7 linked regions of the Homo sapiens genome follow. The protein of the gene in region 5 purifies or fractionates together with the protein of the main gene of each other region. This does not show direct contact. Each region holds a gene or a part of one and is shown on either strand. Other genes may lie near its edges.

What was found.
Region 1: the proteins of CCDC107 (region 5) and PDZD8 purify together in Homo sapiens (affinity purification with mass spectrometry; one large-scale study listed by BioGRID and IntAct). This does not show direct contact.
Region 2: the proteins of CCDC107 (region 5) and ACACB purify together in Homo sapiens (affinity purification with mass spectrometry; one large-scale study listed by BioGRID and IntAct). This does not show direct contact.
Region 3: the proteins of CCDC107 (region 5) and GCC2 purify together in Homo sapiens (affinity purification with mass spectrometry; 2 studies listed by BioGRID and IntAct, with this or other methods). This does not show direct contact.
Region 4: the proteins of CCDC107 (region 5) and GOLGA5 purify together in Homo sapiens (affinity purification with mass spectrometry; 2 studies listed by BioGRID and IntAct, with this or other methods). This does not show direct contact.
Region 6: the proteins of CCDC107 (region 5) and ALG8 purify together in Homo sapiens (affinity purification with mass spectrometry; 2 studies listed by BioGRID and IntAct, with this or other methods). This does not show direct contact.
Region 7: the proteins of CCDC107 (region 5) and RHBDF2 purify together in Homo sapiens (affinity purification with mass spectrometry; one large-scale study listed by BioGRID and IntAct). This does not show direct contact.

What each region holds. Positions count from the first base shown.
Region 1 is NC_000010.11:117,276,774-117,279,107, forward strand, and holds the end of PDZD8 (PDZ domain-containing protein 8), read right to left. Parts: 3' UTR 501-2,334; downstream 1-500. Other genes in the region: SLC18A2 (synaptic vesicular amine transporter), read left to right, coding at 389-493. UniProt on the Homo sapiens protein: Molecular tethering protein that connects endoplasmic reticulum and mitochondria membranes. PDZD8-dependent endoplasmic reticulum-mitochondria membrane tethering is essential for endoplasmic reticulum-mitochondria Ca(2+) transfer.
Region 2 is NC_000012.12:109,231,587-109,235,086, reverse strand, and holds part of ACACB (acetyl-CoA carboxylase 2), read right to left. Parts: intron 2,419-3,500; coding exon 2,281-2,418; intron 1,340-2,280; coding exon 1,240-1,339; intron 1,150-1,239; coding exon 1,042-1,149; intron 1-1,041. UniProt on the Homo sapiens protein: Mitochondrial enzyme that catalyzes the carboxylation of acetyl-CoA to malonyl-CoA and plays a central role in fatty acid metabolism.
Region 3 is NC_000002.12:108,504,706-108,508,205, reverse strand, and holds part of GCC2 (GRIP and coiled-coil domain-containing protein 2), read right to left. Parts: intron 680-3,500; exon of another isoform or gene 647-679; coding exon 576-646; 3' UTR 1-575. UniProt on the Homo sapiens protein: Golgin which probably tethers transport vesicles to the trans-Golgi network (TGN) and regulates vesicular transport between the endosomes and the Golgi.
Region 4 is NC_000014.9:92,814,805-92,818,304, reverse strand, and holds part of GOLGA5 (golgin subfamily A member 5), read right to left. Parts: intron 2,055-3,500; coding exon 1,884-2,054; intron 1-1,883. UniProt on the Homo sapiens protein: Involved in maintaining Golgi structure. Stimulates the formation of Golgi stacks and ribbons. Involved in intra-Golgi retrograde transport.
Region 5 is NC_000009.12:35,657,160-35,661,091, reverse strand, and holds the start of CCDC107 (coiled-coil domain-containing protein 107 isoform A precursor), read right to left. Parts: upstream 2,801-3,932; 5' UTR 2,713-2,800; coding exon 2,607-2,712; intron 2,517-2,606; coding exon 2,365-2,516; intron 1,750-2,364; exon of another isoform or gene 692-1,749; coding exon 631-691; exon of another isoform or gene 536-630; coding exon 445-535; exon of another isoform or gene 347-444; coding exon 1-346.
Region 6 is NC_000011.10:78,126,127-78,129,626, reverse strand, and holds part of ALG8 (dolichyl pyrophosphate Glc1Man9GlcNAc2 alpha-1,3-glucosyltransferase), read left to right. Parts: intron 1-2,187; coding exon of another isoform or gene 2,188-2,190; coding exon 2,191-2,269; intron 2,270-3,500.
Region 7 is NC_000017.11:76,491,424-76,494,923, forward strand, and holds part of RHBDF2 (inactive rhomboid protein 2), read right to left. Parts: intron 1,732-3,500; exon of another isoform or gene 1,639-1,731; intron 1-1,638. UniProt on the Homo sapiens protein: Regulates ADAM17 protease, a sheddase of the epidermal growth factor (EGF) receptor ligands and TNF, thereby plays a role in sleep, cell survival, proliferation, migration and inflammation. Does not exhibit any protease activity on its own.

The sequences.
Region 1 (2,334 bases), on a different chromosome or scaffold from region 5:
GTGTTGCTACAATGACGTCTGTAAACAGAAGTTGGACTGGGTGACCTCCAGGATCCCCATACCCCAATTCCAAGATTCTAAGTATAACAAACCTAACCTGCCTGTCCCTTGCTTCATAGAGTATAAGTTCCCAGAGTGGACTTATGGCCCCTGACAGGTATAATGAAAATACTGCAGAGACCACTTCTGTCTCCAATTGCCTGGAATTTTTAGAGTGTAGAACTACAGGTCTTTTAGGTCAGGCGTCTGGCGATTGCTCCAAATGACTGGTTAATAGCAAGTAATACTACATAGTTTTCAAACTAATAATCCTTAAAAACAGTAGGTTAAAACCATCTTATCTTTATGAAACAAGAAGTTAATATACTTGCACTTTGCTCTCTTTTAGGCTATTCTCATGGATCACAACTGCCCTATTAAAACAAAAATGTACACTCAGAATAATATCCAGTCATATCCGATAGGTGAAGATGAAGAATCTGAAAGTGACTGAGATGAGATCCTCAAAAATCATCAAAGTGTTTAATTGTATAAAACAGTGTTTCCAGTGACACAACTCATCCAGAACTGTCTTAGTCATACCATCCATCCCTGGTGAAAGAGTAAAACCAAAGGTTATTATTTCCTTTCCATGGTTATGGTCGATTGCCAACAGCCTTATAAAGAAAAAGAAGCTTTTCTAGGGGTTTGTATAAATAGTGTTGAAACTTTATTTTATGTATTTAATTTTATTAAATATCATACAATATATTTTGATGAAATAGGTATTGTGTAAATCTATAAATATTTGAATCCAAACCAAATATAATTTTTTAACTTACATTAACAAACATTTGGGCAAAAATCATATTGGTAATGAGTGTTTAAAATTAAAGCACACATTATCTCTGAGACTCTTCCAACAAAGAGAAACTAGAATGAAGTCTGAAAAACAGAATCAAGTAAGACAGCATGTTATATAGTGACACTGAATGTTATTTAACTTGTAGTTACTATCAATATATTTATGCGTTAAACAGCTAGTTCTCTCAAGTGTAGAGGACAAGAACTTGTGTCAGTTATCTTTTGAATCCATAAATCTTAGCTGGCATTAGTTTTCTATGTAATCACCTACCTAGAGAGAGTTGTAAATTATATGTTAACATGTTATCTGGTTGGCAGCAAACACTAAAGCCAATAAAGGAAAAACAGTAAATGTTCCGAAAGCAGAGAAAAGCAACCAAACATATTGTTATGAACTAAAAGCTTTCCCTTTAAGATGCATACTTGTCTTACTGGATGAAGAAAATTGAGGGTACATGTACCTTATACTGTCAAGGTTGTTTAAACATGATAAGGTTAATCGCCATCTACTTCAAGTTTTAGAAAAGGAAACAAGAAGCTGAAAACAGCTGCTCTGACTTTAATATCTGACTATATCTTTGATCTGTTTGCAGGTCATCCAAGTGTTTTCTAGGAATATATTTATTTTAGGTTGTCTGAAACTACTATTTTTTAGACTCCTGAAAGTTGTTCACATCAATGTGAAGACAAATTTTAAATGAAAATGAAGAATGAAATTATGTCTTGAATCATATATTAAGAAGTAAAAATAATAGTGATCAGGCAGAAAAGAAAAATGGAACATCTAAAAATGTATGTGCTAACTATATCATCCAGTGTGCAGTGTTGTGTATTTTTCTAAGCATGACAACATTGATGTGCCTTTTCAGTGTAACAGCAAATACTGTTAGTGAACATTGTCAATTTATGTCATTTTGTTAAGAGATATGACTGGAGTGTGCAGTGTGGAATGTCTCTAATACTACTTGTGAATCCTGCAGTTCTATAATCATAAACAAAAATTACTTAGTTTCGTTAAGCTAAGATTGTGTTTGTGTTAACTTCGACATCAAGGAGCAAAGAACTTTAGAACAGACTCCTCAATCTTGTGACTTTCTTATTCTCTAGGAAAGTAACACTTCGTTTCATGAAGCTTTTCTGTGGGGCTTCGATTATTTCAAGTCTGGTTTCTAAGTGCAGTGTGTTTGAAGCAAACGAACTTCCAACTCACTTATTTGGCATTGGGCAACTTGGCCAAGTCTGCCACTTTGGAAGATGGCTCTGGAGGAAACTCTCATATGGCTAAAAAGGCAGGCTAGTTTCTTACTTCTACAGGGGTAGAGCCTTAAAAAAGAACGTGCTACAAATTGGTTCTCTTTGAGGGTTTCTGGTTCTCCCTGCCCCCAATACCATATACTTTATTGCAATTTTATTTTTGCCTTTACGGCTCTGTGTCTTTCTGCAAGAAGGCCTGGCAAAGGTATGCCTGCTGTTGGTCCCTCGGGATAAGAT
Region 2 (3,500 bases), on a different chromosome or scaffold from region 5:
GAGGGTTTTTGGGTTGGGGACAGAGGGGAGTGACTGCTAACAGGTACAGGGTTTTTCTATGGAGTGATGAGAATGTCCTAAAATTGATTCTGGTGATGGTTGTACAACCTGGTGAATATACTAAAAATATATTAAATTGTACACTTTTTTTCTTATTTCTTCTAAAAAAAAAAACAGGATACATGTGCAGAACGTGCAGGCTTGTTACACAGGTATATATGTGCCATGGTGGTTTGCTGCACCTACCGACCTGTCCTCTAAGTTCCCTCCCCTCGGCCCCCACCCCCCGACAGGCCCCGGTGTGCGTTGTTACCCTCCCTCTGCCCATGTGTTCTCAATGTTCAGCTCCCACTTATGAGTGAGCACATGCGGTGTTTGGTTTTCTGTTCTTGTGTTAGTTTGCTGAGGATGATGGCTTCCAGCTTCATCCATGTCCCCGCAAAGGACATGATCTCATTCTTTTTTATGGCTGCAAAACTGCACACTTTAAATGGGTGAATTGTGTAGTATGTCAATGATGTCTCAATAAAGCTGTTATTAAAAAGATAATTAAAAAATATCACATTGTATACTGTAAATATATATAATTTTTTTTGAGACAGGGTCTCGCTCTGTCCCCCAGGCTGAAATACAATGGCATCACAGGCTTACAGAGCAACCTGCTGTTATTGGCACACTTGGTCATCAATGTAAGTAGCCATTTTAAAACTGCCAGTTTCTGGATTATTCCAACAAAAACACTCCCAGAAAATCTCCAAACTATTTATTGGGTGTGCCCTCCGTACCTGGGACTGGCTAAGCCGTGTATATACTTTGTCATTGAATCATTGCAACACCGTGAGCGAGAGAAATGCTGACCCCACGTTCAGCCACATCTGCCCAAGGTCGCCAGCTATGAGGCGAGCAGAGCTAGAGTGGGAAGCCAGGTCTGTGGCTCTGAAGTACTCAGCACGCCTGCCTCCCCAAGGGCCGCCTCGACGAGCCCAGCCCCTCCTCCTTCTCCAAGAACCCCCACCAAAACCAGAGGCACGCCCAGAGTACCTTGGACTGTACGAATGTCCGTAAAATCGGCACCAGTGCCTCATCCTCCAGGTGGTCTGCACACTGGATGGACACATTCAGAATGTGGATGGGCTCTTCTCTGAGGCTCTGAGAGGGAGAAGCAAGGGGTAGGGCTGGAAAGCCTGGGGGCCACGGCCCACCTGCTCCCCAGGTTGCTCCCTGGGCTTAGACGCTTACCTTGCAGTCATCCTCGGAGTATAGGGAGGTGCGGGCCTCGCTGAAGAGGGGGGTGTCTTTGGGCACGTTGGCGAAGCAAGAGATGACTTCATCAAAATTTCTGGGGGTGCGGGTAGAGAGGGAGGGCTGAGGGGCTGCTGACCCATGGGGATGAGGTCAAGCTTCCAAGCCAGGCAGCAGGGAACGCCAGACCCTCCCAATTTCCCAGCCAACACCCTTTGATCTTATCCAACTCTACAGAGCTCAGGAGGTTCCCTGTCTACTTTGTCCAGAGCACCCGTGATGGGGTCCTTCCCAAAAGGGAAGAATGAACCTAAGTGATCTGTGATCAGGAATACAGGGAAGGATTCCAGCGCTTTCAGGCATCAGCTGGGCTTGAGATCAACTCTTGGCTCCCATTTTTACTGGCTGGGAGATCCTAGAAACCTCACCTCACCCCGAGTCAAAGAAAGGTAATAAGAGTAATCCCTATGCCTCATGAGGCTGTTGTGAAAATTCCACAAGATACTCCAAGCACAAAGCAGAACACACAGTGAAAGGCTGAAAAAAGACTATAACAGTAACTATTGAGAGCTAACATTTAGTCACTATATTATCTGCATACTAATTATACTTTAAATATGTTATTTCACATATGTTATCTCATTTAATTCTCATGGCGCACCTATGAAGTGAGTCCTTTATTATTCCCATTTTACAGATAAGAAAACGAAGGTATGGAGAGGTAAAAATATTTTGCTCAGTCTCTTAGTTAGAAAGCACATAGCCAGAATTCAAACCAGGCAAGCTGACACGCAGGCTCACACTCTTGGCTACGATGCTCTTATTATTCTGTTGTTATTGATGTGCTGTGCCAGGCAAGCTGACATGTAGGCTCATACTCTTGGCTACAATGCTATTATTATTCTGTTGTTATTGACATGCTGTGCCACGTGTCTGGGTCTCTCCCACCCCATCTGTCCAGTGAATTGGGGGGGGATTCAAGGGAAGTCTGCCCAGCCCCCATGCTCAGGGTGTTGGAGACCGGGCCATGCTGGGTACCTGGTGAAGTCCTCGAATCTCCTGAAGGCTACCATGGCTCCCATGCGCTGGCACAGTGGGGAGAAGCCGCTGTCCATGAAGAGCTCTGTGCTGTGCCTCAGCAGGTCAGGGTTGGTGATGCTGATGGGCACGGTCATCCTGTAAGGTGATGGCAAGTCGGGGATGAGGCAGCTGCTTGCAGACCCAACTCTACGAGCTGCTCCTACTCCTGAAGCTTCAGTGAGCTGGACCAGATTTAGAGCTCTTCCAAATGGGGGCTTAAAATGGGCAGGGGATGAGACAATGGCTGGGGCCGGGGCCTGAGGAGGGTCTCATCTGATCCCTCAGGACCTGGTGAAGAGTAAGAGCTCAACAAGTGTAGGAATCAATGATTCATGCATGAGAGTCCAGTCTCAACACAGTCCCGAGGGGAGCCCCAAGTGCTGAACTTGACCACAGAGAAGAAACACTCCCAGCATCAATTTCTCCTGGAGAAATCCACCAGCCCCAGGCAGCTGGTGAGGCAGTCAGGCTTGGTCCTGACGGACACTCCAGTCCTCTGCTCCCTGTAATCCCTCCATCAAACTTGCCCTTGGGACAAAGTCAGCAGCCTTCTGGAGTTTAGACAACGATGCTCCCAGAACTGGCTGCTCACCAGCAGCAAATCTCAATGGGCCACCTGAGGTTGTTAGAATTGGGCCTTGGAATCAGATACGGGAGGGGTAATGAAATGGTGTGCAGGAAGTCAGCACAGCAGGCCCCACACTGCTCTTCTGAGAAAGGAGACCTGCTTGCTTGCAAGGACAGCCCTTGGCTGGCCTCTGGGAACTTGGACTTGGGGAAGGTTCCTATCGTTCCCTGAAGGTGACAAGGGGGGCTCACTGTGCCTCAACTGTTTGCACAAACAGTGTGGTTTATGCTGAACACCTGCTTTCTTCTGCAAGCCTGAGATTTCGATGCAGAGCAGAGGGTGATGTGACCAGCCACCAATCCCTGGTGCGGGGCTGGAAGACAACCCTTCACTTGTGTTGTCACAACTCCTTGCTGGGGGAATGAAGTGCACCCTGCGTGAATCCACTGGGAGAGGACCCTGGCAGCACACCTGCTTTCCTCTGGACTTCACCCTGATGCCTTCTGCCTTGGCTAACTGCTTTGTATCCTTGCCCCCTAATAAGTCAGAGCTATAAGCATGACTATGTCCCGAGACCTGTGAGTTCTCCTAGGCGATGATCGAACCTGGG
Region 3 (3,500 bases), on a different chromosome or scaffold from region 5:
CTCTGACCTTGCAATAAATAGTCATAAAACGTTATTTTTATTTTATTACTATTATTTTTAGAGACAAGGTCTCGCTCTGTTCCCCGAGCTGGAGTGCAGTGGGAGTCACAGCTCACTAGCCTCAAGCAATTCTCCAGCCTCAGCCTCCCAAAGTAGTGGGATTTCAGGCATGAATCACCACACCTGGCCTTGAAACATTATTTTTAAAGCCTAAATTCCAGTTGGTATGGTACCAAAATTTAGTTTAACTTCAAAATTCACAGTACTGCCGAGAAATGGGCGGGTCCTGAGGTTCCAGAGAAGTGGGGAGTGAATTCATTCCTGGTGGTTTTATTCTGGCAGCATGCATGGGAAATCACATGAGTTAGAGGGCTGTGGCCTGCTATCAACACTTCAAGCTGTTGTACTTTTACTTCAAGATGAAACTTTTAAAATACATCTGTCATATAGATGTACAAATATATGTAGATGCAAACATATATACACACTTTTTGACAAAAGAATTGTGGTAATATACGTGAACCATTTTTGTAAATAGATTCTATTTGGTTAATAAAAATATTCCTTCCATCAACCTATCGAAGTCCAGACCAACTATGAAGATAGGATGCCCATCCAGAAGAACGGGAAGCATTTTCTTCCTCACCTTTGGAAAGTAAAACAAAAAAAAAAAGAAAAATAAAAGAAAAAAGAGAGTATTAAAATTTCTCAATGTAAAATCTATATTTTAGAATCACTCTACAATATAAGCAAATAATGTGTTTTTTACTGATTACATGCCTTTTTTTTGGGGGGGGGGGTTCTTTTTTTTTGAGACAGGGTCTTGCTCTGTCACCCAGGCTGGAGTGCAGTGGCGTGATGAGACTTCAATGCAGCCTTGATCTCCCAGGCTCAAGTGATTCTCCCACCTCAGCCTCCCAAGCAACTGGGACCACAAGGTGTGTGCCACCATGCCTGGGTAATTTTTTGTTTTTTTTGTGGAGATGCGGGTCTCACTGTTTTCCAGGCTGGTCTCAAATTCCTGGGCTCAAGTGATCCTCCCACTTCAGCCTCACATTGTTGGGATTACAGTCACGAGCCACTGTACCCATCCATATGTCATTCTTTAGACACACTACTTACTAAATTTCTCTTTTTAAAGGATATACTGAATTTCCGGTTGAGCCAACTTAACAGCTAATTTTCTATTTTAGCTTTAAAACATTGATAAGCAACATGAAGCAATCTAGAACTTAACCTTTAAATGGCTTTATTAAAGAAATCCAGCTATGAAAATCATGCAGAAATGATTATTTACAAACAATCCTACCAGCACATAAGAAATTCTTCTTCTATTCTGAAATACCATCTTCTCACAATATACTTTGATGTTATGAATCAATGTCTGTTCTCGAACATTATTTGTCTTTCTCCATTAAACAATACCAAAATAAAATTTCCAGCACAACTAAGTATTGTTGACGATAAGAGGATTTAAAAAAAAATTCTTTTAAAACAGAAGCTTATATACAACTTAGAATCTAAAACCAATAGATTTATGGTAAACCTTAAAACTGAACCAAAACAAACAAAAACCAAAGTTTTAATCATTTAAAAATCATGTTTATTGAGGTACAACTTACTTATAGTAAAACCTGCCCTTTTCAGCATATAGCACTGAGTCTTGACAAATGCACAGTTACGTACCACCACCGACCAAGGCCTGGCACATTTTCACCTCCTCAAAGTTCTCCCTGGCTGCTTCTCCCACTCCTTGGCAACCGCTAACCTGTTTTCTGTCCTTATAGTTCTGCTTTTTTCAGAGTGTCATATAAGTAGAATCACACTGTACATAGTATTTTGAGTCTGACCTCTGTCAACTGGCATAAGGCATTTGAGAATTATCCATGTTGCTGTACTGGCAGTGCATTCTTTTTTATTGCTGAGCAGTATTCAATTGCATGGCTGTACCAGTTTATTCATTTGCCAGTTGAAGGATAACTGAGATCTTCCTCGTTTTTAGCAATTTTAAAGAAAGTTTCTATGAATAATTGTGTACAGGTTTTTAATTAAATGTTTTGGAGATATAATTCATATACCACATAATTCACCTTTTTAAAGTGCATAAGTCACTGGTTTTTAATATATTCACAAGGTTTGTGCATAGGTTTTTGTGTGAATACTGGTTTTCATTCCTCTTGGATAAAGATTTAATTTGGTATTATCCTTCCAGACACCTTTCTGTGTTTTCATACGTATATATGTATGTCAGTTTGACCTTAGGCAGAGTAGCATTTTCAAAATTTTACATGGGGAAATTTTCTAGAGTTAAAGCCATTTTATTTTTCTGTTCTGTCTGGTTTTATCTGCGTGTTATTTACAATCTGCTGCGTAACAAATTACAAAGTTAGTACCTTAACACATATTTATTTCACAGTTTCTGTGGGTCAGGAGATCAGAAATGGTTCTATTTCAAGGACTCTCACAGGGCTGCAATCAAGATGTTGGCATGGCTGGGGTCTCATCTGAAGGCTGGACTGGAGAAGAATCTACTTCCAAACTTATGTGGTAGTTGGAAGAATTTAGTTCCTCAAGGCCGCTAAACTGATGGCCTGTGTTCCTTGCCTATGGGATGGTAGCTTGCTTCAACAAAGTGTGCAAGCAGAGAAGACAGAGAGTCCGCTAGCAAGATAGAAGCCACAATCTCTTGTAATCTATCATTTTTGCTGTATTCTACTGGTTAAAAATAACTCATTAGGTTAGCCTACTGGCTCTCAAGGGGAAGAGATTATACAAAGGCATGAATTTCTGGAGGAGGGAATGAGGGCAAAGAATTCTGAGAAGTCTGTCTTCCACAATCTGAAGAACTTCTAGAAAGTAGGAGGAAGCGATATTGCTTAGGGATGGACAACTTGGCACTGGTTATGTATTTCAAGTGAGGTAACCTTGTTCCCAAGAATAAAGAGAACCAGACGACTGTAAACATTTCCCTAAACTGAAATGCAGACTGTTGTATGTTCCCCTGAAATGAATGGTGTAAGCTGAATATAAGATTTTTGACAAAAATTTTGCTGTGTTCTCAGATCTGGCAGGCCCCTGCCCTTGTGCAAACAATGTTCCTGGCAGCTATTCATCTCCTTAGGTAAATAAGAATTGGAGAAAAGCTGTGCTAAGATAGGATGCATTTGCTCTTGCCTTGGAAGGTTGTTTTCTGATAAGGTTCTATATCCTCAGCAAATCAAATCAGGCACTTACAGTGTGAGTATGCATTCTCTGCCTGCCAGTCTGGAGATGATCAAAAAGCCTATAACAGGCTTGGCCTATTTTCCTATTGGGTTGCTGGGCTTTTTTTTCGTCTTTATTTACTTGTAGAGAGTTTTAGACCTCTGTGTATGTATGGTGTACAAGTGACAATATTCAGATCTGTAAACTGTAACACAGTCTGGGAGCAAAGAAGATATAGAAAAATGACTTTTACTTCCTGCTTGAGTAGTAAAATTGAGATTCAAATTTTGCATATA
Region 4 (3,500 bases), on a different chromosome or scaffold from region 5:
GTGCTCTGTGCAGTATCTGGAACATACGTGCTCAGTAAACAATAGCTATTGTAATTATTTACAATTCTTTCATTTTGTTAGACCTAACACTTATTATACATTGCATAAATTTTGAGAAGGGTAAGAAAATGGGTCAATGTCATTAATGATGCTGATATATTAAATAAAACAAGTATTTTTCATAATCTCACCAAAAAGACATGAACAGATATGAGTAAGTTTAGCATCTACCCAATTTCTAAGTTTGCAGGACTGAATTCTTTGGAATTCAAATTCACAGATTAAAAAAAAAATCCTACTTTAATGAATAACAATAAACCCAGAAATAATAGCAGCTATTATTTAACTGAGGGTCTATTACATGTCAGAAACAATGCTAGGCTCTTCATATATTATCCTTTATTGTCAAGAGAACCTTTGTTTACCTGCATTCTATAGATGAGAAAATTAAAGCTCCGCAAGATGAAGTGCCTTGTGGAAGCAGCATCTGTTAAGTACCAAAGACAGAATCTATCCACGTCTGTCTGCTATTCAAGTCTATGCTCTAGACAAGGTATCCTATTCTCACAACTTTCACGCTTTCTTTTGTAGTTCACAAGTCTCACAATGTGCAGAGTTAATGCATGGATGAACATTCTCTACAAAAAGTTTCTTCCTTTTAAGAAAAGGAAGCTCGTTATGCTGCACTTTATCTTCTCTCACCTTCAGAGACTCCTTCCTACGATATTTATGTCAAAGACCCCGAAGTTTAAGCAAAATAAATGGCCCAACTTTACTTTTAAATATAGTAATTATACATAAACTATAAATTATAAGAATAAGGATAAAACTGTAATTAGAAGATCATCCCTGAGCCCATACTAATATTAGAAAACATCTCAGCTTCACATAGGAGCTCAAATCTGATTTGCTTTTAACCACTAGAATGTAAGATCTATAATTATGAAGACCCTGTTCTAATTCCAAACCTAGGCACATGGCAGGCACTTGGTAACTATTTGTTGAATGAATTGATCTGTTTTTTATCACCATAACTTTATGGTCAACTTATGGATTAGAAACCTGGTCGGGCATGGTGGCTCACGTCTCTAATCTCAGCACTTTGGGAGGCCGAGGTGGGCGGATCACTTGAGGTCAGGAGTTCAAGACCAGCCTGGGCAACATGGTGAAACCCCATCTCTACTAAGAATACAAAAATTAGCCAGGTGTGGTGGCGCACGTCTGTAATCCCAGCTACTCAAGAGGCTGAGGCAGGAGAATCCCTGGAACCTGGCAGGTGGAGTGGAGGTTGCAGTGAGCCGAGATCACGCCACTGCACTCCAGCCTGGGCAACAGACCGAGACTCCATCTCAAAAAAAAGAAGGAAAGAAAGGAAAGAAAGGAAGGAAAGAAAGGAGAGAAAGGAAAGAAAGGAAAGAAAGAAAGAAAGAAACCTACTGCTTTAGCCCAGCACGGGCTGCAACAGCCCTGCAATCCCAGCACTCTGGGAGGCTGAGGAGGGACAATCACTTGAGGCCAGGAGTTTGGGACCAGCTTGGACAACACAGGGATACCCTGTCTCTACAAAATATAAAAATTAGCTGGGCGTGATGGCATGTGCCTGTAGTTCCACCTACTTGGGAGCCTGAGGCGGGAAGACTGCTTGAGCCCAGGAGTTCGAGGCTGCAGTGAGCTATGATCACACCACTCCAGGCTGGGAGACAGAGCAAGATCCTGACTCCAAAAGAAGAGAAGAGGAAGAGGAGGAGGAAGAGAAGAGAAGCGAAGCGAAGCGAAGAGAAGCGAGAAACCTATCGCTTTAGTAATGCTGTTTCCCCACCTCTCAAACTGTTAACACCTGAGGGTAAATGGTGTCTACTAAGCTGAACCACCATGAATCTTACCTGTAATTCGGATCTGAGCTGATGTATCTGGCCCATCAGCTTCTGTATTTCCTCCCTCTGCATCTCTTTCTCATGCCGAAGTTCTTCCAGCTCCATGCTACTGGCAGTGCTGCTATCTAGGCCTTCAAAACCAGAGCCTTCTTTCAAGCTGTTAATCAATTTTTCCTTAGACTATTATAAAAGAAGAAATATGTTTAAGCAAAGCAGAGATTAGTTTGTATATTGAATATCATCTACTATACAGAAAATAACCCACTAAAAAAAATTCCATTATCTCCATCAAAGAAAGTCCACAGATTTTCTTAAATCCCTAAGGATAAAAAACACAACAGAGCCTTGCTGTATAATGTCCTTGGACTTTAGCCCCACAATCATGGTAAAGTTGAAAGCTTGTTATGAATAAGATTTTTTTTTTCCAGCTGGGTGCGGTGGCTCACGCCTGTAATCCCAGCACTTTGGGAGGCTGAGGCGGGCGGATCACGAGGTCAGGAGGTCGAGACCATCCTGGCTAATATGGTGAAACCCCGTCTCTACTAAAAATACAAAAAAAATTAGCCAGGCATGGTGGCAGGTGCCTGTAGTCCCAGCTACTAGGGAGGCTGAGGCAGAAGAATGGCGTGAACCCGGGAGGCGGAGCTTGCAGTGAGCCGAGATCGCGCCACCGCACTCCAGCCTGGGTGACAGAGCCAGACTCCGTCTAAAAAAAAAAAAAAAAAAAAAAAGATTAAAAAAAATTTGTGTTTATTTATTTGAGATACGGTCTTGCTATGTTGCCCAGGCCGGTCTTGAACTCCTGGCCTCCAGGAATTCTCCTGCCTCAGCCTCCCAAAGTGCTGGGATTGCAGGAGTGAGCCATCACACCTGGCCAAACAAGACTTTTCTCACATTTTCTTCTCATAGTTTTTATTTTCCAACACATTCTACCCAACAAGTAAATGGTGCTAAGTGTTCTGCGCAATAAAGATAATGTCTCTCTCTATAGATAGTACCCTCTGCCTTACAAACTAAAAGAGAAGTTACAAGTATCCAGCAGAAGGCAATCAACACAAGTAGAGAAAAGGATATGGTCAGATTACTTGCAGAGTTCTGAGAGGAAAAACCACTTCTGGGTAAGAGGAGACTTTAAGAGAGCATAAATGTTGGCCTTGAAATATGGGTAGACTTTTTTAAAGTGCAGAGAAAAACAGAGAGCAAAGCATAAAAATGCAAAAGCACACAAAGTCTGTAAGAAAATAATGTGAGATGCAGCTCAGATAGTATTTTAGCACCAATTTGGAGGGGCTCCTGATCTCAGGCTAAAATGTTTTAATATTATATGGCAGGCTAAAACAAATTACCAAAAAGTAGAGAGAGGAGTGACATGACTAGAGATGCATTTTAGGAGGCTAACCTGGCAGTGCTATGAAGAAGGTGCTCACAAATGATGGTCCGTGGGCCTGTTTTTGTACAGCCTGCAAGCTAAATTTTTTTTTTACATTTTAAAAGGATCATAAATAATAAAGACAAAGAATATGTGATGGAGACTACAGGTAGCCAACATAGCCTACAATATTTACTATTTGACCCTCTCAATGTTTTCTGACCCCTGAGATAAAAGATGAGTTTGAAGAAGAGATT
Region 5 (3,932 bases):
CCTTCTCCGTAGTCCCCGCCCCACCTCCCAGGAAGTAGCTAGGTTCCATGTCTCTGTGCTCCAGTTTGTGGGCTCCTCCCAGGCCTGACTGTCACCAATCTCCTCCTCGTCCTCCTTTAAACAGAAGTCCTCAGGAAGAGGTCTGCTGGCCTCTGTGTGGGGAGAGATCAGGAATGTTCCAGTTTCAGAGACTTTGTCTCCACCTCCAGCAGACTCGCCTCCCGAGCCTTCACCTGGTTCTGAAGCCTCCATATCCTTGTCCGGCTTGCTATCTTGCAGCAGCTCGTGGATGGTCCATAGCTTCATGTTCAGAAGCTCCTGCTGGGCTCCAGCCAGAGTAGTCACACTGAAGAAATGTCCACTCAGTGGCTCCCAACCTATGTCCCCATTCCTCCCTCCTGCCACAAATTCCCCAAAAATTCACAGAATCATTGCTCTCCTCACCGCTCAAAAAGGGGGTCCAGCTGGGCCATCAGGTTGTTCAGGTGCTGCTCTGTCTGGGCCAGCTGTTGTGTCAACTGGGCCAGCTGTTGCTCTGGGGATAAGGGAAAAAAGGGGGCAGAAGTGGTTATGTATCTTCTGCTGTCCCCTAAACTCCCCCGACCCAGCACAGACTTCTGCTAAACCCACCTGACTGCAGTGGCTGCTGCTTGCTTGCCTCCTCGTGGAGAACCGCAGTTTCATCTTTCCCCTGTTGTGGAAGAAGGAAAGGGCAGTACTGAAGCAACAAGGTTCTGCTCCATCACCTCAGTCTCCAGAGCCAGCCAAGAGAGAGTGCAATTTGAGATGGAGACAGTGATTGGGTTTTTACCTCAGAGAATCACAATCCTAGTCTATCTAGCTCCTCACCCAGCATATGAAGCGACGTCCTATGTCCCACACATGGTCAGTTTGCTGAAACACCTCCAGGAATGAGCAACTCCCTCCGGTTTGAAAAAAGCTCTGGTGGCTGAGTGCTGTGGCTCACACCTGTAATCCCAGCACTTCGGGAAGCCAAGGTGGGTGGATCACCTGAGGTCAGGAGTTTGAGACCAGCCTGGCCAACACGGTGAAACCCTGTCTCTATTAAAAATACAAAAATTAGCCGGGCGTGGTGGCAGGTGCCTGTAATCCCAGTTACTTGAGAGGCTGAGGCAGGAGAATCGCTTGAACCTGGGAGCCAGAGGTTGCAGTGAGCCGAGATTGCGCCGCTGCACTCCAGCCTGGGTGACAGAGCGAGACTCCATCTCGAAAAAAACAAAAACTTTGGTTGTTAGACAGTTCATGCACAAAGCCAAAATTTGTCCTTTATGTATCTTCTTTCCATAGTGCTTACTGGAGCCTTCCAAAATAATGTCTCCTCAAGGTGACAGCCCCTCAGGAATTTGAAGGCAATGGTCACACCCTCACCCACTTTCCTGAGTTTTTTCTGGTTTATTAACGTCAGTCTTTACAGTCAGTGCTCATTGACGGTGGTTTTCTCTGGTTGTTTCCTGAACACGTAGTGCTCTTAAAGCAATGCCCTGAGGAGAATACAATTCTCCAGGGGCATTCTGATTGGCAGGTGAAGCACAGTGCCATGTTCCCAGCACTGATTTGGGAAGTGGCTTGTCACATCCCACAGTGAACTCAGTCAACTGGAATGCCTAACTCTCTTTCATAAGACCTCCTGCTACATTATGTTTCTCCCAGACTGTACTCAGGTCCAAGAACAGAATTTACTAGTCTATCCTTCTCAAAGTTCATCATTAAATTCAGTCATTCATCCTAGCCTGTCACATCTACCTGGGGTCATTATTAGCTATCTCTTCTAGTTTCATATATCTAAACTGGTTCCATCGGTTCTATTTTATAATGCAAGTACGTAATAGGGTCACGGCTAAAGACACAGCCCTGGAAGGTACTGTTTTTCAAAATGTACTGTCAACTTACATTTCAGGGCCTCCTCCCAAGGAGAACATGAGACCACTTCATATCTGGAACTCTAGAAACACTGGCTGCAGCAATCAACCTCCTGTGCCAAGGCTGGCCCCACTCTTGTAGCATGGACACTGCTAGCTGGGTTCAAATCCCAGCTCCAGCAGTTGCCAGCGCTGGGTGACCTCGAGCAAGTGACTACTCCTCACTGGATTGTAGGAGAACTAAATGTGATAGTCATTATTTACAGTTCACCACACGCTCTTCACATCCGTTACCTCCCTGGATCCTCAAAATAACCTCATAATATTGGAAGGCCAACGGACTACTGTCTTTATTTTACAGACAGGGAAGCTGTGTCTTGTTCTTGGTACCCTGGCACCCCCATGGGAGATTCGGGCTCAGGGGATCCCCACGCCCGGCGGTCCCGCACCTGCAGGGGCACCCCTACCCCCGGCCGCCCCGTACCTGCAAACACTTGTACAGCACAAAAGCCGCGACGGCCGCGGTGTACAGCGCCCCCAGAGGCAGCGACCCGGCCCGGGTCCGCTCGCGTTGATCCTTGAGCGGTGGTCGCCGCCGGGGTTCCGTGGCTCCAGAGCCGGGGTGGGCTGCGTTCCCTGCGGAGGGAGGATACAGGCGAGTCAGCCGAGCTGGGGCCTGGGACCCGTGCGCAGTCCCAGCCCTCCTCCAGCAGCCCTAGCTGGTACCTGGGTGTGCCCGGAGGTCGGGATTGGCGCGGTCTCCTAGGACCCCGGACAGCGCAGACACAAGCAGCAGCCCCACCACACCCAAGAGCGAAACTGCGCCCGCCATTGCCGGCCCACGGGTGGAGGGATCGGGCGGGCGGTGCCGAAGCGGTCCGGCATTGGCCGGCCGCCCCAACGCGCACGCGCACGCGAGCAGGCCGGCCGGCTCCGGGGAGGCCACGCCCACTCCCCGTAGGGCGGGGCCAGACCATATTTGCATAAGATAGTGTCATTCTAGCTTTCCTGTATTTGTTCATTTCGTGTCTATTAGCTATTCTGCTAGCCACAATGCCTCTGAAAGCCTATAGTCTTAGAAAGTTATGCCCGAAAACGGTTTTTTTAATCTCACGCCACCAACTTTCTCACCCTAATCATAAAACACAATTTCTTTAGGGCTATAAAATACTACTCTGTGAAGCTGAGGACGTGGTTCGTGCTGAAGGCCTGTATCCTAGGCTACACACTGAGGACTCTGTTCCTCCCCTTTCCGCCTAGGGGAAAGTCCCCGGACCTCGGGCAGAGAGTGCCACGTGCATACGCACGTAGACATTCCCCGCTTCCCACTCCAAAGTCCGCCAAGAAGCGTATCCCGCTGAGCGGCGTGGCGCGGGGGCGTCATCCGTCAGCTCCCTCTAGTTACGCAGGCAGTGCGTGTCCGCGCACCAACCACACGGGGCTCATTCTCAGCGCGGCTGTTTTTTGTTCCCGAGACCACGGCTCACTGCAGCCTCGACCTCCCCGGGCTCACGCGATGCCTCACCTCAGGCTCCCAAGTAGTTGGGACCGCAGGCGCACGCCATCATGCCTGGCTAATTTTTGTATTTTTTGTAGAGACGGATTTTCACCTGTTGCCCAGGCTGGTCTCGAACGCCTGGTGTCAAGCGATCAGTCCACCTCGCCCTCCCAAAGTGCTGGGATTACAGGCGTGACACCGCGCCCGGTCAACGCGGCTGCTTTTCATGCGCGGGCAGCTTTACGCTGTTCTTGGCCTTGCTATGAAGTCCTTGTGCTCATTACTCCAAATATGGAGCATTCCTGAAACAGCCTCCTCTTCTACCTCCCTCTCCCTTTGGCAAACGCCATAGTAGCCACCATTCACTGTGTAGCTGGTACACAACATATGGACTCTGCTTGGGCTAGAATCCTGCCTCCTGTACTCAAGAGCGGTGACCTTGTGAAACTTAGTTCTCTCTCCGTGCCTTCCTTTCCACTCTGAGGAATGAAGATAAGCACTTACTTCAAGAGCTATGATGATTAAATGGGATCACTCAAGTTAGAACCGTGCCT
Region 6 (3,500 bases), on a different chromosome or scaffold from region 5:
ATTATTATGAAAATAGTACATATTTCAAACTCCTTGAAAGGGTCTCCCTGTGAGTCCCTGAATCACACTTTGAGAACTGCTGCTCTACAGTATTCCATTGTGTGAAAACACCACAATTTATTTAGCTATTCTGCTGTTTGTGGACATTTATCTCCACTTTTTACCTGTTGCAAATAGTTTTACTTTGCACATTTTTTTTTTTTTTTTGAGACGGAGTCTTGCTCTGTCGCCCAGGCTGGAGTGCAGTGGCGCGATCTCAGCTCACTGCAAGCTCCGCCTCCTGGGTTCATGCCATTCTCCTGCCTCAACCTCCTGAGTAGCTGGGACTACAGGCGCCCACCACCACACCCAGCTAATTTTTTATATTTTTACTAGAGATGGGGTTTCACCATGTTAGCCAGGATGGTCTTGATCTCCTGACCTCGTGATCCGCCTGCCTCAGCCTCCCAAAGTGCTGGAATTACAGGTGTGAGCCACCGCGCCCGGCCCCACTTTGCACATTCTTACAGTACGTGTCTTTTAGTGAGCATACTATGCATTTCTGTTGGGTATACGTACTTAGACTTGGGATGGATGGGTCATCAATTCAGTTCTGAGTGGAGATTTTGAAATATCTGTAGGAAATTCAAGTGAGATTGTTAACAGGAAGTTGGAGGTGTCTGTCTCCACAACTTAGTAAAGAAGCCAATGTTGCATATTGAAATTTGGGAGTAGGCCAGGCATGGTGGCTCATGCCTGTAATCCCAGCACTTTGGGAGGCCGAGGCAGGCTGATCACGAGGTCAGGAGATCAAGACCATCCTGGCCAACACAGTAAAACCCCATCTCTACTAAAATACAAAAAAAAAAATTAGCCAGGCGTGGTGCCGCGCACCTGTAGTCCCAGCTACTTGGGTGGCTGGGGCAGGGGAGTCGTTTGAACCTGGGAGACGGAGTTTGCAGTGAGCCAAGATCGCACTACTGCACTCCAGCCTGGCAACAGAGCGAGACTCCGTCTCCAAAAAAAAAAAAAAAAGTAATTTGGGAGTCATCATTATACAATTGACAGTGGAACCAGAAAGTTTGCATAAGATTGTCCAGAGCAGAATAAGTTGCGTAAAAAGGGGACCAAGAACTGAACCTAGGGGAATATCAACATGTCCCTGATGAATATAGGAAGGGAAAGCCATGACTGAGAAAGAAGGGTTGGCTGGAGGTAGGAGAAAGTTGTCATTGTGGAAAGGTTGTGTAAAATGTTGGAAAGGGTAAATTGGGCTTTGCTGTGGAACTCATTGTTCACTTTGGTGAGTGGATATTCAGCAAGAATGTATTGAGCTTGTCCATGCGTCAGGTACTGTTCTAAATGTGGAGGGGAGGTACAGCAGTGGACAAACAGGAAAAGATTTTTTCTAAAGATAGGTGATCCTTAGATATGTATAGTGATGGGAAGAGGGAGAATTTGGAGACATGGGAAAGGCAAAGCAAGGATCTTTTCCCACCTTCTCTGTCAGATGAACTCCTCATCCTTATGTCTTGGTATATGAGGCCTTTTTCAGGTAATGAATTTTGTTAGAATTGTTTGTGAGCAAGAGGAAGTCACTTCTGAGCAAAGGCCTGAGGGCCGCCTGTAAGAAAAAGTTTGGGCTAGGCCGGGCGTGGTGGCTCACGCCTGTAATCCCAGCACTTTGGGAGACTGAGGCAGGTGGATCACCTGAGGTCAGGAGTTTGAGACCAGCCTGGCCAACATGGCGAAACCCCACCTCTACTAAAAATTAGCCAGGATTGGTGGTACATGCCTGTAGTCTCAGCTGCTCGGGAGGCTGAGACAGGAGACTCGCGTGAACCCGGGGGGCGGCAGTTGCAGTGAGCTGAGATGGGTCCACTACACTCCAGCCTGGGTGACAGAAGGAGACTCCGCCTCAAAAAAAAAAAAAAAGAAAAGAAAAAGAGAAAGTCTGGGCTTCTTGTCAGCCCTTTAGGTAGTTCTGAGACCCTTTTCACTGACTTGTAGATTGCTCAACAACTTTCTAGAAGATCTGACCTCCAGATAAATGAGGTTTTACAGGATTATGTAATGTCTATTTGTGTCTCTATAGGACAGTGAGCTGTGACAGCTTAGGGAATGTCAGTCCATTTAAAAGCATAACTATGGGAATTAGAAATTGATAAATATTGCAAAATCTCATTTTATTTATCTAATTGTTTTGAGTAGCCATTCCACAGATTTTGAAGTACACCGAAACTGGCTTGCTATCACTCACAGTTTGCCAATATCACAGTGGTATTATGAGGTAAGTTTTAATTTTCACCTTTTTTTTTTTAAGATTCATCTATAAACTAGGTAAATATTACTGATATTAAAAATGTTTTCTGGCTGGGTGCGGTGGCTCACGCTTGTAATCCCAGCACTTTGGGAGGCCAAGGCGGGCAGATCATGAGGTCAGGGGTTGGAGACCAGCCTGGCCAACACAGTGAAACCCTGTCTCTACTAAAAATACAAAAATTAGCTGGGTGTGGTGGTGGGCACCTGTAATCCCAGCTACTCAGGAGCTGAGGCAGGAAAATCACTTGAACCTGGGAGGCGGAGGTTGCAGTGAGCCGAGATCGCGCCACTGCACTCCAGCCTGGGTGACAGAGTGAGACTCTGTCTCAAAAAAAAAAAAATTTTCTTGCAATCATAGATCTAATTAATCTTTATAAAAATTGTGGTCTCTTCTCAGTTCTGTCCTCTTGCACTACTAGGGAATCCCCTTACTTCAAAATGAGTTTCCCAGTCTATAAATTGGGAGGTATAATATCTACCACACTTTTTGAAAGAATAGTGGACTGGGAAAGAGGAAGAACTGGATTCTTAGGCCTGGCTCTGCCACTATCTAGTTACATAGAGAAAAGATACTTCATGTCTCTGGGCCTTAGTGTCTCATCTGGCACATGAGGATTTGGAGTGAATTATTTCTAAGATCCTGTCTGTTCCTAATGTTTTGTGATTTTGTGAGGAAAGGAATAATCAAATGTGATGTGTAGACATCAGGTAATATACAAACCATTCTCTCATATTGTTTATAAAAACTATGTCTGTATTTTTATTTCTTTTTCTTTTCCTTTTTTTTTTTTTTGAGACAGAGTCTCGCTCTTGTCACCCAGGCTGGAGTGCAGTGGCACAATCTCAGCTCACTGCAACCTCCGCCTCCCGGGTTCAAGCGATTCTCCTGCCTCGGCCTCCCAAGTAGCTGGGATTACAGGCGCCCGCCACCATGCCCCAGTTAATTTTTGTATTTTTAGTAAAGAGGGGGTTTCCCCATGTTGGCCAGGCTGGTCTCGAACTCCGGACCTCAGGTGATCCACCCACCTTGGCCTCCCAAACTGCTGGGATTACAGGCGTGAGCCACTGCACCCAGCTTGTATTTTTGTTTCTGGTATGAATTACTAAACTGTGTGTAATACTTTATGAAAAACAGACATTACTCCAGAAATTTCTTCTTTTTTTTTTGAGACGGAGTCTCGCTCTGTTGCCCAGGCTGG
Region 7 (3,500 bases), on a different chromosome or scaffold from region 5:
CAATCAGTTGGGGGGGGGTCCCGAAGAGAGGTGGCCTGACACCAGACAGCAGAGACAGGGCCAGGGCGGGTGGGCATGTCTTCCTGGGCAGGAGCCTGGCATCGGGAGTGCCATCTGAACCGCAGAGCACAAGAGGCCTGGGCAGCGGCCTGAGAGCAGCTCCACCCTCTGGCCTCAGTTCCCTTCTCTGAGGGAATGGGACAAGGTCACGGCCCAGCTTTGACACCCATGAAGCCTAAACATGGAGTATGGAAGCATGACTTTGCACCAGCCACTTTCCACCATTGAGATCAACTGCCTCCAACTCGTGCAGAAGTTGGGGTGGGGGTGCAAAGGCCCAGCCCCTTCCTTGGGGCTCAGCGGGGAAAGGAGTGGGGACTGTCAGACCCACTCTGGCCTTCCTCATGGCTCAAGTCCAGATGGCAGGAACCAGACAGAAAAAAGCGCTGGAGAGCTGGAGCTACCCCACCCAGCACTTATCTCCGAGCCCTAGAGATGCTTGCTCACTGCAGGGGAAATGGTGACATCCTGGGACCAGGCTTCCTCCTGGCCCGCAGTCACATCCGCCGCTCTCTCTCTAAGACCCCCAGGCCCGCCTCCGCACCCAGCCCACAGGCGGAACACTGCCACCTGCCCAGCCAGATCCTGGCCTCACTGTGGCCAACCCCAGAGAAGGGCCTTCAGCCCCAGCCCAGCTGGGAGATGCCAAAGAGACCTGGGGAGAGGGACTGGGGCTTAGGGTGGGACAGACTCTATTTCCTCCTCCTTTAGGGTGGGGCGGGGGAAATCCTGAAAAAAAGTGAAGTGCAGAGTTCAGATCACCCCCAGGTCCCATGGGTTGAGGCCTCTGTACCCTCCCCTGCCCAGGCTCAGGGCCTCCCCCACTGCAGATAGCTTTGGAGACAGCATAACCCAGCTGGCAGCAGCGGACCTCAGACACATCCAACGAAACACAGACTCAGACACCATTTACCACTGCTGCCCAGAGAATCTGGTTTCCCCACAAAGGGTGAGGCCAGGCACTCCCAACCAAGCCTGTTCCGCACAGCTGGGTAAGCAAGGCCACCCCCAGGGAGGTCCCCAACAGCTCTACCAGCCAGTCCAGGCAGGGTACAAGGGTCCCCCCGCCATGCGGACTGTACAAGCCACACTCCTCCACGCGGGCCCAGCCCACTGCCCCTCCCAACTCCCCCAGGTGCAGTTCCCTCTCTCCACCTGGTGCCACCAATCTCCCTGCACTCCCCACCCCCACACAAGTGGGTTTCTAGAAGCTCTGAGTCTTGCTAATGAAGGGTGCAGTCCCCACAAGCCCTGGGCTCTATGGGCTTTATGGGGCAGGGCAGGGAGAGCGTGACAGGTGCAGCCCAGAGGGAAACAGGCAGAGGCTTGATGCAAGGGCTGAGCCTGCGTGTGGCCAGAAATGGGGACACAGGGGTGGGACGGGACAGGCCCTTGGATAAGAAGTAAGCAGCCCCCTCCCCTCCAGACAGGAAAGAGGGAGACCATTATTATCCACTGGATATGACCAGGAAGTTTAGGGGGCTCAAGCCATCTGAAGACAGGATGTGGGGAAACCACCCCCTGGGCGGGAAGCTGCTTCCAGCCTGGCTCCGGAGCCGCGGGTGGGCGAGGCGTCACCTGGTGTCCCTGGGAGTGGGCAGTCAGGACAGAAGGAGGGCGGTGGGAGGCTTGGGGCCACGTCTTCGCGGCTGAATCACAGGATGCTAGGGTGAGGGCTGGGGACAAGGAAACTGCTTCTCTCCCCAGCTCCCTTGCCACAGAAACTGAAACTCATTTTCCCTGCCTGTGGCCCTGCTGGGAACCAGGGCATTTTTAGAAAGCTGCAAAGAGGAAGCTGAGCCTCACCCACTGTGCAATCCCCAGCAAAACCCGTGGTACTGCTGACCCCGGGGTTTCTCCAGCCCCAGAGGCCCGGAAGGACAGCTCATGGCACAGCTGTTCTTACACCTCCCCATGCATCCCCAAGCTGGGCCTCACGTAGCCAGTGACGCTGCCCTGGCAAGAGGTAGAAGGGGCAAGAGTAAAGGGCAGGAAAGTGGCAAGAAGGCTGGCTGGGGGCCTGGGGGCAGAATTTGGGGAGAGTCATGAGAGGCAAAACAGAAGGGCAGGGTTGGCATGAGCTGCGGCGTGAGCTCCACCGGCAGAGTTAGCAGAGGGGAGAGGGGGCTGGGGACTCTGAGGGTGGGACACCCAGCTGTCTGTCTCCAGGAGCCAAACAGGAGCCACTCTCCCTCCCTCTCAGCACCACCTCCCCAGAGGCCGGAGCTGGTGGCAAGTGGGCGCAGACACGATCTCAACCCACTCCGCCGGTACACGCTTCAGCCCACAGCTGCTGATGGAGAGAAACAAAACGGCCTGTGGGTTCACACAGCTCCCCAGACATCCCACGAACAGCGGGTCCTGGCCCAGAGAGCTGTTTCTTTCTCCTCCTCGCCCCTCCAGGGCTTGCCTCGAACTCAGTTCAGAAGATCAAGAACCCCCAGGGGCAGCTTCAGGGGACTGACCATCCCCTGACTTCTCTGGGCTTTTTCCTATCCGGCCCCAGGCTCTGGGCTCCCCTTAACCCGGTTAGAGTGGCTGGGGCGTCATAAGCCAACCACAGACACGGGAAGCGGGTGCTGTGCTCCAGGGAGCCGCCAAGATCAGGGGTGTGAGGTGTGAACCTGTGTGTGTGTGTTGCGGGGGGCTGGGGGGTGACATGTCATGTTCTTAGGGTGGTGCAGCCCCTGACGCCCCCTCTGCACCAACCATCTGGGCTTTCTCAGGACCAGTTGCCAGCAGGGATGGCAGAGATACAAATGCCCCCTCCTCGGCTGGGGTTCCTGGTCCAGGAAGCAGGCTGAGCTGGGGGTGCTGGAGTCCTGCATCCCCGAAGCCCAATGTGCAGCAGCTGCTGGCAAGACACAGGGGTGGGCACCAAAGGAGGTGGCAGTGCAGCCAGGCCTCGAGCTGGACACAGCGCTGGGCCCCACCCACCACAGTGCCCTCCCCTGGAAATTTCTGGATTTCAAAAGCTGCTGGTGGAGGCTGGGCACAGTGGCTCACACCTGTAATCCCAGCACTTTGGGAGGCTGAGGTGGGCAGATCACCTGAGGTCAGGAGTTCTAGACTAGCCTGGCCAACATGGTGAAACCCCATCTCTACTAAAAATACAAAAATTAGCCAGGCATGGTGGCGGGTGCCTGTAATCCCAGCTACTGAGGAGGCTGAGGCAGAAGAATCGCTTGAACCTGGGAGGCGGAGGTTGAAGTGAGCCGAGATCACGCCACTGCACTCCAGCCTGGGCGACAGAGCAAGACTCCATCTCAAAAAACACACAGACAAAATAAAACAAAGCTGCTGATGGAGGCAGGCAAGTGGCAGCAGCTGGGCGGGGATGCAGGTGCCTTCCACATCCCAGGGAAGAGGCAGCAGCTCCCGAGCCTGGGGCTGGACTGCAGGCTTTGGGGCAATGAAGGGAAGGGGGCACGCACAGCAGC